2 separate regions of the Homo sapiens genome follow, and region 2 is linked to region 1. The links come from fine-mapping of genetic effects on gene expression. Tissue or cell type: naive CD4 T cells. Region 1 holds a variant in brackets; the other region holds the start of a gene. All regions are shown on one strand. Distances are from middle to middle.

The links. PIP is the estimated chance that this variant, and not a neighbour inherited with it, causes the effect.
Region 2: CEP20 starts here. The variant in region 1 is fine-mapped to the expression of CEP20 in naive CD4 T cells (Schmiedel 2018, PIP 0.95).

Annotation. Positions count from the first base shown.
Region 1 is chr16:15,587,074-15,595,177 of GRCh38, reverse strand. It overlaps MPV17L-BMERB1 (MPV17L-BMERB1 readthrough), which reads right to left. Exons shown (of 6, transcript NM_001414674.1): 6 at 6,919-8,104. It overlaps BMERB1 (bMERB domain containing 1), which reads right to left. Exons shown (of 6, transcript NM_033201.3): 6 at 6,919-8,104. It overlaps MARF1 (meiosis regulator and mRNA stability factor 1), which reads left to right. Exons shown (of 27, transcript NM_014647.4): 27 at 1-791. Among named protein-coding and RNA genes, the nearest start is that of MIR6506, 20 kb to the left of the region's middle. RefSeq lists enhancers at 3,812-4,106, 3,453-4,652, 7,593-8,094. The variant T/GTGTGTGTGTT (reference allele first, on the strand shown) is at 3,584.
Region 2 is chr16:15,884,585-15,892,688 of GRCh38, reverse strand. CEP20 (centrosomal protein 20) reads left to right here and starts at 4,086. Exons shown (of 5, transcript NM_144600.4): 1 at 4,086-4,131. The coding sequence starts at 4,104.

The DNA of each region.
Region 1 (8,104 bases):
GAAAAAACCCTGTAAGTATTATGGCACTCTCCGAATCCTCCTGAAGGCATTTCCTCTACAGACATAGTGTTACAGGAAGTGAAATGCAAATGTGCAATTTTTTTTAAAGGAGCTTTTAAACAAAGTAATAATAATTGGTGTTGAGAACATCAGTTGCCTTATTCTAAGATTTCATAAGGCTGAGTTTGCACGCTTGGACTTCAGTTCTGCTAGCATGTAAAGAGTGGTGGACTTTAAAACCGTAAGAGGTATCATTACAAGTCACCTGGAACAGACTCAAAGAACAGGTTCTTTGGGCAACAGACAAAGAAGAATCAAGTTCTGTGCTGTCCCGTGAGTGTGTCTGAGTACCATTCACTGGAGTTGCTGCTTAGGTCTGGGACGTGTGTGTGACTCTTAACAATTGCTGTCTGAAAATGAGAGAGAAGACTTCGGAAGCACATTGTGTTCATAATGTACTCCACAATGGCCAGTCCAATTGCTATCTATTTTTTTATCCAGAGGCTTAATTAAATGATGTGGTAAAATGATGTTTGAGCATTAAGACAATGTAATTCTTTATTTCTGGGTGGAAAGATATACCGGATTAAATTTATCTGTTTAAAAAAATGACAAAAGTTATCACCAAAACCCCCTTTCCCATCTTGCACTGTTTGTTTTGGATTGGGTTTGGGGGAAAGAGATGTTTTTCTTAGTTGTCTACTTTGTTTGAACACTTTTGTTGTGGTTCAAGTGCTGTTTTGTGTGTTGGGACCAAACAGTTGTCAATAAACTTTACAAGCGAGCATCTATTTTGAGTTTCCCAAGTGAGTGGTTTTGTCTGTCTGTCTGTCTGTGGGGAGGAATTACAAACCAATACAGTTCTGCCATCTTTCATTTTGGGTCTCCTCAACTTCTCTCCCCTTCTGGAAATAGAATTGTGAGGTGGAGAGTAAATCCGTCTACATCTTAGAGGCCTTTTAAACTCAGCACACGCCGAAGCAGGTGGCTGGATGGTGGGCCCTTCGTCGTCAGGATCCTCCAAGTTTTCCAGCCTTTGTTCCAGCTTATAATTACATGTGGGAAAATACAGTAACCACAAAAACCTTCCAGTTAGAAAACTCTATTAATTCCTAGGCTCTCTCTTCTTGTGAAAGAAATCCAGCGTGCCCGCTGTCTCGTTTTTGGTCACTGCTAAGCATGCTTTTTGAATAAGCCAATTTGGAAAAGAGTTATTCCACAGATACAGTTGTGAAGCCCTCCCATCCCCTGAGACCGCCATTACCCCGTCACCCCTGCCACCAGCACCCTCTGGCAAGAATTTAAAAGGACCCAGAAGAGACTTGAGTAAATTGCTTCTTGATGACATTTTTTTCAAGTTCAGCAATGTTAAAAGCTGCTAAAGACCTTTCCAAACATTTCACGATGGCAAATTTGTGCAGAAAAAGTTGAGTAGCCATCGTGCCCCTTTTGAGCGGCGTCAGGAGGTCTTGTTAGGTGTGGACTGGGGCTGGAACGGTGGCTTTGCATTTATCTTTGTTTGTTTCCCACCTAGGAAGGTGATTCAGAGGTGGGGGCCTAGAAGACAGCTGTCTGGGGGAGAGCAGACCTGTCCGTAGCAGAGGGGGCTGCGCTGATTGAAGAAGATCTGTTCCCTCTCTGTTCCCTTTGCCAGAAGGAGCGTTGCGCTTTGGGATTCACCTTCACTTTCTAGCTGCTTCCATGGGCAGAGGGTGAGTCATGGCGCAGAAGCCCTCAGCGGCCTCCACCCACCTGCTGTCCCCATTGCTGGGGGGGGGGGCGGTGGGCGGCAAAACTTCCTCAATTCTCCTAGTGTCCCTGGCTGGGCCTTAAACTGACAAAGACATTAATAGGAAAAAAGCAAACAAATTTTACTTCATACCAGTTTTGCGAGAGTCTTCATAAGGAAATGAAGACCCCAGAGAAATGGCTAAGCCTGAGTGGTTTTTTGTTTTGTTTTTTGGTTTTTTGAGACAGTCTCACTCTGTCACCCAGGCTGGAGTGCAGTGGCATAATCTCAGCTCACTGCAACCTCCACCTCCCAGGTTCAAGCGATTGTCCTGTCTCAGCCTCCCGAGTAGCTGGGATTACATATGTGCACCATCACACTGGCAAATTTTTGTATTTTTAGTAGAGATGAGGTTTCACCATGTTGGCCAGGCTAGTTTTGAACTCCTGAGCTCAAGTGATCCTCTGGGCTCAGCCTCCCAAAGTGCTGGAATTACAGGCATGAGCCACCACGCCTGGCTGAGAACGCTTTTTTTTGGGGGGGGGGGGGGCGGGGGGAAAAGGGCTAGAGAGCTTAGAAGGTGCCAAGCCAGAGCACCAAGAGCCAGAACTTTCCTTAGCAAGATGAAGAGAAGAATACACACGTTCCGGGAAGGAACGCCTTGGAAGTGGGGGAGCTGAGGTGCAGAGGAAGAAGGCATTGCAGGGTGGAAGGGGCCGTTCTTAGAGGGAAATCCTGCTCAGTGGCTGGGCTGCTCAGCTCCTCACTCCGCACGAGGTGGTGAACCAACCAGGAGCATCCGCAGGGGAGCAGTACCAGGGCCAGCAGGGAACATATTGGGCCTGCTTGGCACCGTCTCTTCCATCCGCCTCAGGCAGCTCATGTGATGGCCTCCAAAGGCTTCCCAGGTGCAGGGCCTGGGCATGAGGGAACCCCCGCTCCTACCACCCACCTGCCCCCACTGCAGTTTCTGGTATCAGCAAGTGCAGACAAATCCACACTGGGGCTGCAGGGTCGCCGCCCTTGGTATTTCAGCAGCCAGAGTCTGATGCATCAAGGGCAGGTGTGGCAAGAATCAGGAAATACATTTTTTTTTTTTTTGAGACAGAGTCTCACTCTATCGCCCAGACTGGGGTGCAGTGGCACGATCTCGGCTCACTGCAACCTCCTACCGGGTTCAAGCGATTCTCATGCCTCAGCCTCCGAACAGCTGGGATTACAGATGCTGCCACCACACCTGGCTAATTTTTTTTGAGACGGGGTTTTGCCATGTTGCTCTGGCTCGTCTCAAACTCCTGGCCTCAAGTGGTTCACTTGCCTCGGCCTCCCAAAGTGCGGGGATTACAGGCGTAATATAATATAGATATTATATATAGATATAGATATAGATGTCTCTATAATATCTATATATAAATAGATATATCTATTATATATAATAGAGATATATATCTATATATAATATATAGATATCTATATATTATATATAGATATATATCTATATATTATGTATAGATATAATATAGTCACACAGTCAACCATGCCCGGAACCCCCAAGCCCCCACTTTTTTTTTCCGAGATGGAGTCTCACTCTGTTGCCCAGGCTGGAGTGCAATGGTGCGATCTCGGCTCTTTGCAACCTCCGCCTCCTGGTTTCAACCGATTCTCCTGCCTTAGCCTTCCGGGTAGCTGGGATTACAAGCATGTGCCACCACACTTGCTAATTTTTGTATTTTTAGTAGACATGGGGTTTCACCCTGTTTTTTAAATTCTCTAAAAGGAAGAGGACACTTTTTTTGTTGTTGTTGTTGTTGTGTTGTGTTGTGTGTGTGTGTGTGTGTGTGTGTGTGTGTGTGT[T/GTGTGTGTGTT]TTGAGACAAAGTCTTGCTGTGTCTCCAGACTGGAGTGCAGTGGCGCAATCTCGGCTCACTGCAACCTCTGCCTCCCAGGTTCAAGCGATTCTCCTGCCTCAGCCTCCCAAGTAGCTGGGACCACAGGCGCCCACCACCATGCCCAGGTAATTTTTTTGTATTTTTAGTACAGATGGGTTTTCACCATGTTAGCCAGGATGGTCTCAATCTCCTGATCTCGTGATTTGCCCGCCTCGGCCTCCCAAAGTGCTGGGATTACAGGCGTGAGCCACCGTGTCCAGCCCTGTTTGCTTTTAAATGGGAGAGACCTGTTTAAATCCCTCCGATGGGAAGAGAAAGAACAATTGGGGCTACAGTGGTGGGGAGGGAGGGAGATGAATGATGACTCTGTCACTAACAACCCCTGGGACCGTGGGCAGTGGATTTACTGCCACTTCCTCATCTGTAAAGTGAGAAGTGATAACAGGATCTGACTCACTGTTTCAAGTGTTTATTCTGCCTCCGCTTGCAACCTCTTGCAACCTCCGCTTGAAAAGGGTAATGGATTTACTGCTACTTCCTCATCTGTAAAGTGAGAAGTAATAACAGGATCTGACTCATCAGGCTGATGTGAGGAGGGAACCAGCCAGTGTGAGCACATTGCTCAAGGCATAGAGATAAGCTACAATAAATGTTATTCCCATTATCAACCTCCTCCATGGCTTCTAAAAGGAGCAAGTCTAGGTGTGCAGGACCCCACAGTCTGCAAGGTTTCCCAGCTTGGAAGGTGGCCCTGGTAATCTGGAAGCGTCTGTGACAGCTTAAATAAATTGGATTTTTTAATGTTTTCTTTTTTTAAAAAAATCAGTAGGAATTACAGGAACATACAGTAGGTGTACCCAGAGCTTAGCGGAAGTACCAGAGGCAGGATTTTGATGAGGGTTTGATCTCCTCTGGTTCGTTGGATCTGTGAGTGACTGCTGTATAACTGGCCTGAGGTCAGACCTCGCTGACCCCCCCACTCCCCTCTCCCCTTTTTTTTTGAGATGGAGTCTCGCTCTGTCGCCCAGGCTGGAGTGCAGTGGCACAATCTCTGCTCACCGCAAGCTCTGCTCACTGCAAGCTCCGCCTCCCGGGTTCACGCCATTTTCCTGCCTCAGCCTCCTGAGTAGCTGGGACTACAGGCGTCCACCACCACGCCCGGCTAATTTTTTGTATTTGTAGTAGAGATGGGGTTTCACCGTGTTAGCCAGGATGGTCTCGATCTCCTGAACTCGTGATCCGCCCGCCTCGGCCTCCCAAAGTGCTGGGATTACAGGCTTGAGCCACCACGCCCGGACCCCCCAAGCCCCCCCTTTTTTTTTTCCGAGATGGAGTCTCACTCTGTTGCCCAGGCTGGAGTGCAATGGTGCGATCTCGGCTCTTTGCAACCTCCGCCTCCTGGTTTCAACCGATTCTCCTGCCTTAGCCTCCCGAGTAGCTGGGATTACAAGCATGTGCCACCACACTTGCTAATTTTTGTATTTTTAGTAGACATGGGGTTTCACCATGTTAGCCAAGTTGGTCATGAGCTCCTGACCTCAAGTGAGCCTCCCACCTCGGCCTCCCAAAGTGCTGGGATTACAGGCATGATCCACAGTGCCCAGCCTTGACCCACATTTTTTATGGGGAAAAGAGGGCGGTGGGCCCTTTGCAGCCTGAGTTTTCACTGCACGTTGGAGCGGGAGGGGTCTGTGGTGGGTGGAATTGGGTCCTCCCCAAATGCATGTCTACGTGGAGCCTCAGAATGTGACCTTGGTTGGAAAGAGGGTTTTTGCAGAAGTAATTAAGGAAAGGGTCCAAATGAGATCATACTGCATTCGGGTGGCCCTCACTCCAATGACTGGTGTCTTTTTAAGATGAGAGGGTGCACAGAGGCACATATACAGCGGAGGCGGCCACGTGGAGACAGAGGTGAAGACTGGAGTGGTGCAGCCAGGGAACTGCCAAGGTGCCAGGAGCCACCAGGAGCTGCAAGAGGCAAAAGAAGATTCTTCCCCACAGAGGGAGCAGAGCACCGCAGACAGGTTGATTTCAGGCTTCTGGCCTTTAGGACTGTGAAAGGAGACGGTTCCACTGTTTTAAGTCACCCAGTAGAAGGTCATTCATTATGGCATCCCCAGTACACGAAGAGTCTGGCTTCATGATTGGTCTAGGTTGGTGAAGGAGGACACGGGGTCCTCTGAGGCCATTGTGGTGGCACTGAGTAGCCCAAGGGACCCTTTTCAGCATCAGAATGGTGGGAAGTGGTGTGCAGACCAAAGCCGCGAACACGCAGAGTGGGAGGACTGGGGTCTAGCAGCCTGCTGGGAGGGCCTGTCCAACCAAAGACCTTTTGATCTACAAATTTTTTTTTTTTTTTCGAGACGAAGTCTCGCTGTGTCACCCAGGCTGGAGTGCAGTGGCGCAATCTCAGCTCAGTGTAACCTCTGCTTCCCATGTTCAAGAGATTCTCCTGCCTCAGCTTCTTGAGTAGCTGGGATTACAGGCACAAGTCACCACACCCAGCTAATTTTTGTATTTTTTGGTAGAGATGGGGTTTCTCTGTATTGGCCAGGCTGGTCGCGAACTCCTGGCCTCAAGTGATCAGCCTGCCTCTGCCTCCCGACGTGCTGGGATTACAGATGCGAGCCACCGCACCCAGCCAATTTACAAATATTTTGAAAATGCTACTTATGAATGGCCCAATAATTTTACTTCTAGGAGTTTATCTTAAGGAAAAAATAAAAAATTCAGATGAAACCTTATCCCCCTAGATGTTTATCAAGACACTATTTTTTTTTTCCAGGGGGTGCGATCTTGCTCTGTTGCCCAGGCTGGAATACAGTGGTGTGATCATGGCTCACTGCAGCTGGAACCTCCCAGGCTCCAGCAATCCTCCCACCTCCCAAGTAGCTGGGATCACAGGCCCGCGCCACCGCATATGCCCAGCTATTTGTATTTTTAGTAGAGACAGGGTTTTGCCATGTTGCCCAGGCTGGTCTCGAACTCCTGGACTCAAGCAATCCTCCCGCCTCAGCGCCTGGCCCAAGACACTTTTTTTGTTTTTTTTTGAGATGGAGTCTTGCTCTGTCACCCAGGCTGGAGTGCAATGGCACGATCTCGGCTCACCGCAACGTCTGCCTCCTGGGTTCAAGTGATTCTCCTGCCTTAGCCTCCCAAGTAGCTGGGATTACAGGCACCCATTACCATGCCTGGCTAATCCAAGACACTATTTATAAGAAAACCTAGAACCAGTCTACACATCCAATAGTGAGGAAATGATTAGATGAATTACAGTACATCCACAAGATGGATTACTAAACAGACATTGGCATGATTTATGAAGAGTGTTTAATGTTTACAAAGAGCTTTTAATGATGTGGAAGATGGTGGTATAATAAGTAGGAAAAAACTGGTTATAAATGATACCACAATATGATGTCAACGATGAAAAAATGCACAAAAAAAGACTTTTTTAAAACGTCGAAACATCAGAGTGGTCTCTAGTTGGAGGAATAATTTTTTTTTTTTTTAAGACAAACTTCTTCATACTTTTTGTACTTTTAAAATGATTTACTATGTACATGGATTACTTCCATAATCAAGAAAAAAAGTAAAAACTTTTAAAATGCTGTGAACGTGGTTTCCATTTTTATTTTCTCTGATGGGTGACTGCACATCAGCATCTTGAGTTATGCTAACTACTTAGGCTGGTCACGACACACACACACATACAGAGAAGTCACACAGGCTGTACCGGGCTGGCTGTTGCAAATGTACATGAATTACACGGGTTGAAGTTGTTTGGCAGCTAGTTAACATATGCCACCCAATGACGGGACACAATCTGGTCACACGCTGCCTCTCCTGCCTGTTGCTGTTCTTTACAAAGGTCCGTGTGTCGGGCTGGCAAAGTGGCATCCTGCTGGCATCTCTGTGGTGGCCCCGGAATGGTGGAGTGCCCAGGTCAGCATCTACTCTGGGTCCCATTCTCAACTGCTCTGGCCTTGACATCAGAGCTTCCGGTTCCCTGCTGGCTCTTCTGCACACTGGATCCATGCCAGTCCAGGCCCCCTCCAGGCACACACCTGAGGCAGACTGAGAGCACAATGGACGCTGTCCTGATGTGAACTGTGCCCAGACACAGGATGGGGGGAAGCGGGAGATGTGACCACGACACCACACACAAGCTCGATCTTTACAGATGGGCCCTCTGGGACTGCTATATGGGTGGTGCCCGAGAGACACGGGGGCCATGTGGAGCCCTCCAGGGCACAGTTGCTGGGAGAGGACAGACGGGAGGGGACCTGTGCCCATGTGCCTAGCTCTGAGAGCAGAGCTAGGAGGGTGGATGGGGAACGTGTCCGACATGGTGCTAGATTGTTGAGAAGTCACGACTACACACAGCTGGGGAGCATGCCCCTCTCCCAGTTCATTCACACGGTGGGTTAGATACAGCTAGAGAGAAGTGGAGATATGCTTTTTTGAGGGAGGACCTTTCCTGGTGTTTGGATAAACAG
Region 2 (8,104 bases), 300 kb before region 1:
GACTCCGTCTCAAAAAAAAAAAAAAAAAAGAAAGAAATCTGATTGGACAGAAAGTGCCTGATCTAAACCCAGCAAAGCCTGTCTGCTCAGACTTTTCTTGGGCTCTCTGTGCAGCATTTCTTCCTTGAGGGTAGCAGGCAGAACCCTTTCTGGAATGAGGGTCTTTTGACCCACAGTCAGATTAGAGTCCTGCTTGGGGCAGGTCAGAGGTGGACAGGAGAAGATCAGAGAGGGAGATTCTGTTTCCTGAGGCCTAAAGTGCCTCAACATTATAATGAGGTGAATGGGAGTTAGATGCCAGGAATCGTGGAGATGAAAATCAATACCTATATCATAACACCACAGGAGTGCTTTTTCTGAGGGACTTAAAAATACCACCTATGGAATTTAGTTAATCCCCAAAAATCTCTTGAAATGCTGGCCAGGTATTCAGTCACTGTGGTTTTACAGAGTAGAGAAACAAGATAGGACCTTTTCAAGGTTACAGAACAGATATGTGTCCCATAATCAAAAATTAATCCAGTCAAAAATTAATCCAGTTTGGAATAGGAAGAGATTCCTCTAGGTTACAATCACTTTCAAACTTTTCTGATGGCTGATCACTTTAAGAAATACAACAGGTACCAGAACACACATGTGTACCTGAAAGGAAAGTTCTAGAAAACCATACTTCTATGTTTTCTATTTGTTACATTCCATTTCACTGAAAATGTACTCATGGGGATCTACTAATAAATAGATTTCAAAACCTACTATTTGGTTAACCAGCAGTTTAAAGAGCATTATCCTAGACTCTAGGTCAAGATACTCTGCCTGGCCCCCCTTTTTTTTTAAGTCTCAAGAAAAAGTAAGAGAGAAAGAGGAAAGAGAGAGAGAAAGAAAGAAAGAAAAGAAAGAAAGAAAGAAAGAGAAAGAGAGAAAGAGGGAGGGAGGGAGGGAAGGAAGGAAGGAAAGGGAAAGGGCGGGGAGGAAGGAAGGAAGGAGAGAGAGAGGAGGGAGGAAAGGAAGGAAGGAAAGAAGGAAGGAAGGAAGGAAGGAAGGGAAAGAAAAGGCATCTCCCCTTGTCACCAGGCTAGAAATGCAGTGTTATGGTCATGGCTCACTGTAGCCTCCACCTCCTAGGCTCAAGCAATCCTCCTGCCTCAGCCTCCCGAGTAGCTCGGACTACAGGGACACATGCCAGGCTAATTTTTTGTTTTGTTTGCTCGGTTTTTTTGTTTGTTTGTTCGTTTTGGTTTTTTTTGACACGGAGTTTCACTCTTGTCGCCCAGGCTGGAGCACAGCGGCGTGATCTCGGCTCACTGCAACCTCCACCTCCCAGGTTCAAACGATTCTCCTGCCTCAGCCTCCCGAGTAGCTGGGATTACAGATGCCTGCCACCATGCCCAGCTAATTTTTGTATTTTTGGTAGAAATGGGGTTTCACCATGTCGGCCAGGCTGGTCTCAAACTCCTGACCTCAGGTGATCTGCCCTCCTCGGCCTCCCAAAGTGCTGGGATTACAAGCGTGAGCCACCGTGCCTGGCTGTTTGCTCTTTTGTTTTGTTTTGTTTTGTTTTGAGTCGGAGTCTTACTCTGTTCCCCAGGCTGGAGTGCAACCTCTGCACCCCTGGCTCACTGCAACCTCTGCCTCCTGGGTTCAAGCAATTTTCCTGCCTCAGCCTCCCGAATAGCTGGGATTACAGGCCTCTGCCACCACGCCCGGCTAATTTTTGTATTTTTAGTAGAGATGGGGTTTCACTGTGTTGGCCAGGCTGGTCTCGAATTCCTGACCTTGTGATCTGCCTGCCTCAGGCCTCCCAAAGTGCTGGGATTACAAGCGTGAACCACCGCACCCGGCCTTGTTTGCTCGTTTTTAAAGACAGGTTCTCCCTATGCTGCCCAGGCTGTTCCCCCTCCCTTTAAAAAAAATAGTTAACAATTATTGATTGTATATTTCAAAATAGCTAGAATACTTGTAATGCTTCCAACACAAAGAATGTTTGAGGTGATGTTTATCCCAATTGCCTTGACTTGATAATTACACATTGTATATGTGTATCAAAATATCACGTCCCTCCCCATAATTGTGATATATCAATTTTTCTTTCTCTCTTTTTCTTTTCTTTTTTTTTTTTTTTTTTTTTTTTTTTTGAGAAAGGGACTCACTCTGTCGCCCAGAGTGGAGTGCAGTGGTACAATCAGCCGTCCAGGCTCAAGTGATCCTCTCTCCTCAGCCTCTCGAGTAGCTGGCATGCACCATCATATCTGGCTAATTTTTTTTTTTTTTTGTAGAAATGCGTCTCATGTTGCCCAGCTTGGTCTAGAACTCCTGAGCTCAAGCAATCCTCTATCCTCGGCCTCTGGAGTAACTGGGACTACAGGCATGCACCACCATGCCCGGCTAATTTTTTGTATTTATTTTGGAGAGATGGGGTCTTGCATTGCCCAGGCTGATCTCAAACTCCCGAGCTTAAGCAATCCTCCCTCCTCGTCCTCCCAAAGTGCTGGGATTACAGGGATGAGCCACCGCACCTGGCCAATGTATCAGTTTTAAAAACAATAGGCATGGAACCAAAAGTATGCTGGAAGTTCCTCGGAAAGAGGTTTCCTTGCTCTTAGGTGGTTTTTTTTTTTTTTTTTTTTTGAGGCGGTGTCTCGCTCTGTCGTCCAGGTTGGAGTGCAGTAGCGCGATCTCATCTCACTGCAACCTCTGCCTCCCAGGTTCAAGCGATTCTTGTGCCTCAGCCTCCCAAGTAGCTGGGATTACAGGCTCCTGCTACCACGCCCGGCTAATTTTTGTACTTTTTTTTTAGTACAGAGGGGGTTTCACCAGGCTGGCCAGGCTGTTCTCGAACTCCTTACCTCAGTCTCCCAAAGTGCTGGGATTCCAGGCGTAAACCACCGTGCCCTGGCAGCTCTTAGGTGTACTTTTTTTTTTTTTTTTTTGAGACGGAGTCTCACTCTGTCGCCCAGGCTGGAGTGCAGTGGTGCCATCTCGGCTCACTGCAAGCTCCACCTCCCGGGTTCACGCCATTCTCCTGCCTCAGCCTCCCGAGTAGCTGGGAGTACAGGCGCCCGCCAGCACGCCCGGCTAATTTTTTGTATTTTTAGTAGAGACAGGGTTTCACCGTGTTAGCCAGGATGGTCTCGATCTCCTGACCTCGGGATCCGCCCGCCTCGGCCTCCCAAAGTGCTGGGATTACAGGCGTGAGCCACCGCGCCCGGCCACTCTTAGGTGTACGTCTAATCGATGTTTATTATTTAGCCAAGTGTTTGGATCTCACCGGCATTACAACTGGAATCATGCAACCTCACACTCAGTTTAGGGTACATTATTCCCCTGTTCCTTTTCCTTTACTTCCATGGGATGTTGGAGCTTATTCCTTCATTAGTTAGTTCCATAAAAAGCTCCTGGACTCCTTACATGCACTGTGTAAGTGCGAGTGGAAGAGGACAGGCTGGTGACCTTGGTTAAGTCTCTTCAGCGATGGAGGACTCTGTTTCCTTCATTGTAAAAACGGCGTGATCATAAGGAAATAATGCGCTAAGGCGTCACAGTAAGTGCTTAATACAGTGGTTCTCGAGGTGTGATCTCCAGACCGACCAGCAGTACCAGTACCACCTGGGAACTCGATAGAAATGCAAATCCTAGGGCCTCACCCCAGATTTACAGAATCAGAAACTCTATGGGGAGGACTAGCAAACAATCCGTTTAAACAAGTCTTGGAGGTGATGAGGATTCATGCTCAAGTTTGAGAACCGCAGGGTTAATAGGTGGTAACTACTAGCAGTTGGTACTTGAGGCTGCAGAGACAATGAAAAACTCAGCTGGCTAAAGTTAAGCACTAAGGTGCCAGCAGCACCCCACAGGGCTCTCCACTGCCTCAGTCCCCGCCCTCCCTGCCGTCTCACTCAACTGGGCCTTCCGAGAGCGCTCGCTGATTGGTGGAGTCTCTGGTCGACATTCACTACCCACTCAACCGCAGAGCTCATAAACTGAGAGGGGCGGAAGTGGGCGGGGCGAGAGCTGTGCGCCTATTGGCTACAGACCACGCCGCAGGGTGAGTGGGGCGGAGCTGCGCGTGCGCAGGGCCGCGGTGCGGCCCTGGCGGCCGTTGAAAAATGGCGACTGTGGCAGAGTTGAAGGCTGGTGAGTGCGAGCAGGGAGGCCTCCACATGGGAAGCGTCGGGCCTTCATCTTGTGGAAAGGATGGGATGGGAGGAGAGCGCGCGGAACACATGGGTTGGCTTTTACAGGCGTCATTCTTCGGTGTGAGGGCCTGCGGGGAGCGTCTGGCTGCTGTCTTGGCCCGTGCGCGGGGAGCTCTTATGGGGAAGAGGTTGCCCACTGGCGAGTTTTAAGCCAGTTTGGAGCTAAAGGAGGAGTTGCGTAATCTTCAGGCATCTAAGAGGCCTACAGGCCTGCATCTTGGGCCCCTGGCTCATCTTCTTGGACCCTGCCGGGGGCTGGAGGACTTGGACCAGGCTTGGCACTCAGGGCTGATGACTACAATTCCCACAACCCCTATTGGGTTAGGCACTGCCCTAAACAATTTGCTTGGTTGTCTCGTTGGGTCCTTACAACAACCTGTTAAGTAGCCCTCCCCTCCTTGCTTTTTTTTTTTTTTTTTAAAGAGAGGGTCTCTCTGTCGCCCAGGCTGGAGTGCAGTAGCGCGATCACAGCTCACTGCAGCTTCGAACTCCGGGACTCCAGCTATCCTCCCACCTCAGCTTCCAGAGCAGGTGGGAATACAGGGGCTCTTCACTACGCCCGGCTAATTTTTGTATTTTTTGTAGACACGGGGTCTTACTGTCGAACTCCTGGTCTCAAGCTATCCTCCTGCCTTGGCCCCCTCAAAGTGCTGGGATTACAGGTGTGAGCGCCTGGCCCCTTTTTCATCAGAAGAAACTAGAGGCAAAAAGTTTGCTGGCCTGGCCATTCTCCTGTCTTTTCAGGAAAAGATACTCTAAGCTAGTTATGTTTGAGTCATTAATGACATTTGTACGCTGTTTACTTTGAAGCAAATGTCCAGACAAGTAATAGTAATAATAGTTATCATTGAGCCTCATGTGTCAGGCACTACTCAACTCAGCCTGTGTGTTACCTGATTGTAACAACCCTATGCCCATTTCATAGACTGGGAAACGAGGTACTGAGAAGTGAAATAGCTCAAAGTGATTTCACTGGAAAGAGACACAGCATGGGAACCTAGTTGTGACGCACTGGAGCGCCAGGTCTTAATCACTGAGCAAGATTGCTGTCCAAAAAATAAAACCAGTTCCACTTTGCAGGGAACCCAGGGTTTAAACTAGTAATTCTTAGATATTTTAGGGAGGAGACGTGTATAAAAGTGTGTATTTGGGGACAGGGCTGGTGAACAATCATAAAACAGAACAGGCATGCATCTGTCCACAAGAACAGACTTCACGAGTCTACAGATGCTGTTCCCAGGGAAATACACATCACATGTAATATTGCATACATTTTCAGAGGATTTAAAGGTACACTTGGAATGGGCCAAGCACAGTGGCTCATGCCTGTAATCCTAACACTTTGGGAGGATCGCTTGAGCCCAGAAGTTTAAGACCAGCCTGGCCAACATGGTGAGACCCCATCTTTATTTAAAAAATAAAAATTAAAAAAAAGAGCCGGGCATAGTGGCCTGTGGTAGTTCCAGCTACCCCACAGGCTGAAACAGGAAGATAGCTTGAGCCCAGGAGATAGAGGTGACAATGAGCTACAGTGGTGCCACTGCACTCCAGCCTGGGCAACAAAATGAGACCTTGTCTCAAAAAAAAAAACAAATTAAAAAATAAAATAAAAAAGGTACTCTTGAAATATAAGCGAGGTTAAGACCTTTCCGAAGAAGTTTTGATGGCGCAGTGTTCTAAGCATAATAGAGGGAAAGGTAAAATGCTATGGACCTCCAAAAGAAACCCGGTGAAAACTTGTTTGCCAGCCAGTTACCTTACATTTTATGGGCATTTACCTTTTTTAAGCACGATCACGTTTTTCCTTCTTACTTGGTTCTATCTCTGAGAGGTAGAGCTCATTATTTTAGAGAAGGCAACTGAGGCATGGGTTGGTAATCCACCACTGAGGTGCTGATGAGACATGCTAGCTTTCCTCATTCCACTGTCACTAATTCTCGTTTCTCTGTCCAGTTTGAGGCTGTCCTGTGTGCAATACAGAGTAATTGGGACAGGATCCTTGCCAGTGACAAAATCTCTCCATCCAATTTCCAAAGATGGAATTAGAGAATAGGGGTTCAGTTATGATTCTAAGAGTACAATAAGGCTGTACCTTCCTTTTATGGACCTGTTACAAACTCTGATCTGGTGATAACTGTACTTAACCTATCTGCAAGAAGGTTGAAGGGATGCTTTAAAAATGAGGGGAAAGAAAGGTCAAAAGTCAGTGAAGATTCTATCTCTTTAGTCATATGATCCAGGGTTATTGTTGACGTTATTTATTGAAGCTTAGAAAGATCTTATGTCCATACTGACTTGGATAAGCTCCTGGGCTCTCTTTATGGATTTTTGTTATTGTGATGTACTTACTTGGTGCCTTTGGCAGGGTGCAGAACAGTGTTAAACTACATTGATTTCCCAGTAGTGTACAGCAATGTATTATAATCCTTCTAGGTGACACCTACTGAGCTCTTGCTCTGTTCTTGACTCTGTGGATGAGATGTGTTCATTCTCTGAAGTTGTCATTTAGCCAGTAGGAACTGTTTGAAAATAAAAGTTGCAGATCACTACAAGGGATGGTGCCAATTCAGTCCTAAGATCCCCATTATCTATACTAAGTATGTACAGCCAAATCCCATGATCATAACTGCTTTGTCATGGTGACTCTGGCTAATCAGTAAGTTAGATTTCCATTCTGCATACACATCCCTGACTCCTTAAGATGGCATTGATACAGTCACGTGGTAGATTTCTAACTAGGCTTAAAATTTCAGAATCCTACTGTTCTAAGGAATTAACTCATAGTTGTCTTTAAAACAACGAGGCCAGTGGGCGCAGTGGCTCATGCCTGTAATCCCAGTACTTTGGGAGGCTGAGGCGGGTGGATCACGAGGTCAGGAGATGGAGACCATCCTGGCCAACATAGTGAAACCCTGTCTCTACTAAAAATACAAAAATTAGCCAGTCGTGGTATCGCACACCTGTAATCCCAGCTATTTGGGAGGCTGAGGCAGGAGAATTGCTTGAACCAGGGAGCCTGGAGATTGCAGTGAGCCGAGATCGTGCCACTGCACTCCAACCTGGCGACAGAGCGAGATTGTTTCAAAATAACAACAATGAAAAACCCAACACCTTTTCACTCCCTAAAGCGTTGTGGATTATCAAAGGTTTGTGTTTTTTTTTTTGGTTGGTTGGTTGGTTGGTTGTTTTAAACAGAGTCTCACTCTTTCGCCCAGGCTAGAGTGCAGTGGCACCACCTCAGCTCACTGCACCCTCCACCTCCCAGGTTCAAGTAATTCTTGTGCCTCAGCCTCCCAAGTTGCTGGGACTACAGGTGCGTGCCACCACACCCGGCTAATTTTTTGTATTTTTTTAGTAGAGAGGGGGATTTCACCTTGTTAGCCAAGATGGTCTCAATTTGCTGATCTCGTGATCCGCCCGCCTGAGCCTCCCAAAGTGCTGGGTTACAGGCATGAGCCACCATGCCCTGCCATCAAGGTTTTTACACAGTAACCCAACAGACTTCTTTTATGGAATGTAGTTGTTTTCTTTAATCATCTTTCTAGACCAGAGGTTGTTAGTGACAAGCAGAACCTGTGTGCAGTGGCAGACACTCTTGAAAATATATGAGAGACTGGGGCTTAAGTTCAGGTCTCAGTAAGCAACTATAATCCTATCCCCCGCCTTTTCCCCTCACTAAAGAATTATGTATTGGCCGGGCACGGTGGCTGACACCTGTAATCCCAACACTTTGGGAGGCTGAGGTGGGTGGATCACGAGGTCAGGAGATTGAGACCATCCTGGCCAACACAGTGAAACCCCGTCTCTACTAAAAATACAAAAAAGAAATAGTTGGGCGTGGTGGCACGTGCCTGTAGTCCCAACTACCCTGGAGGCTGAGGCAGGAGAATTGCTTGAACCTGGGAGGCAGA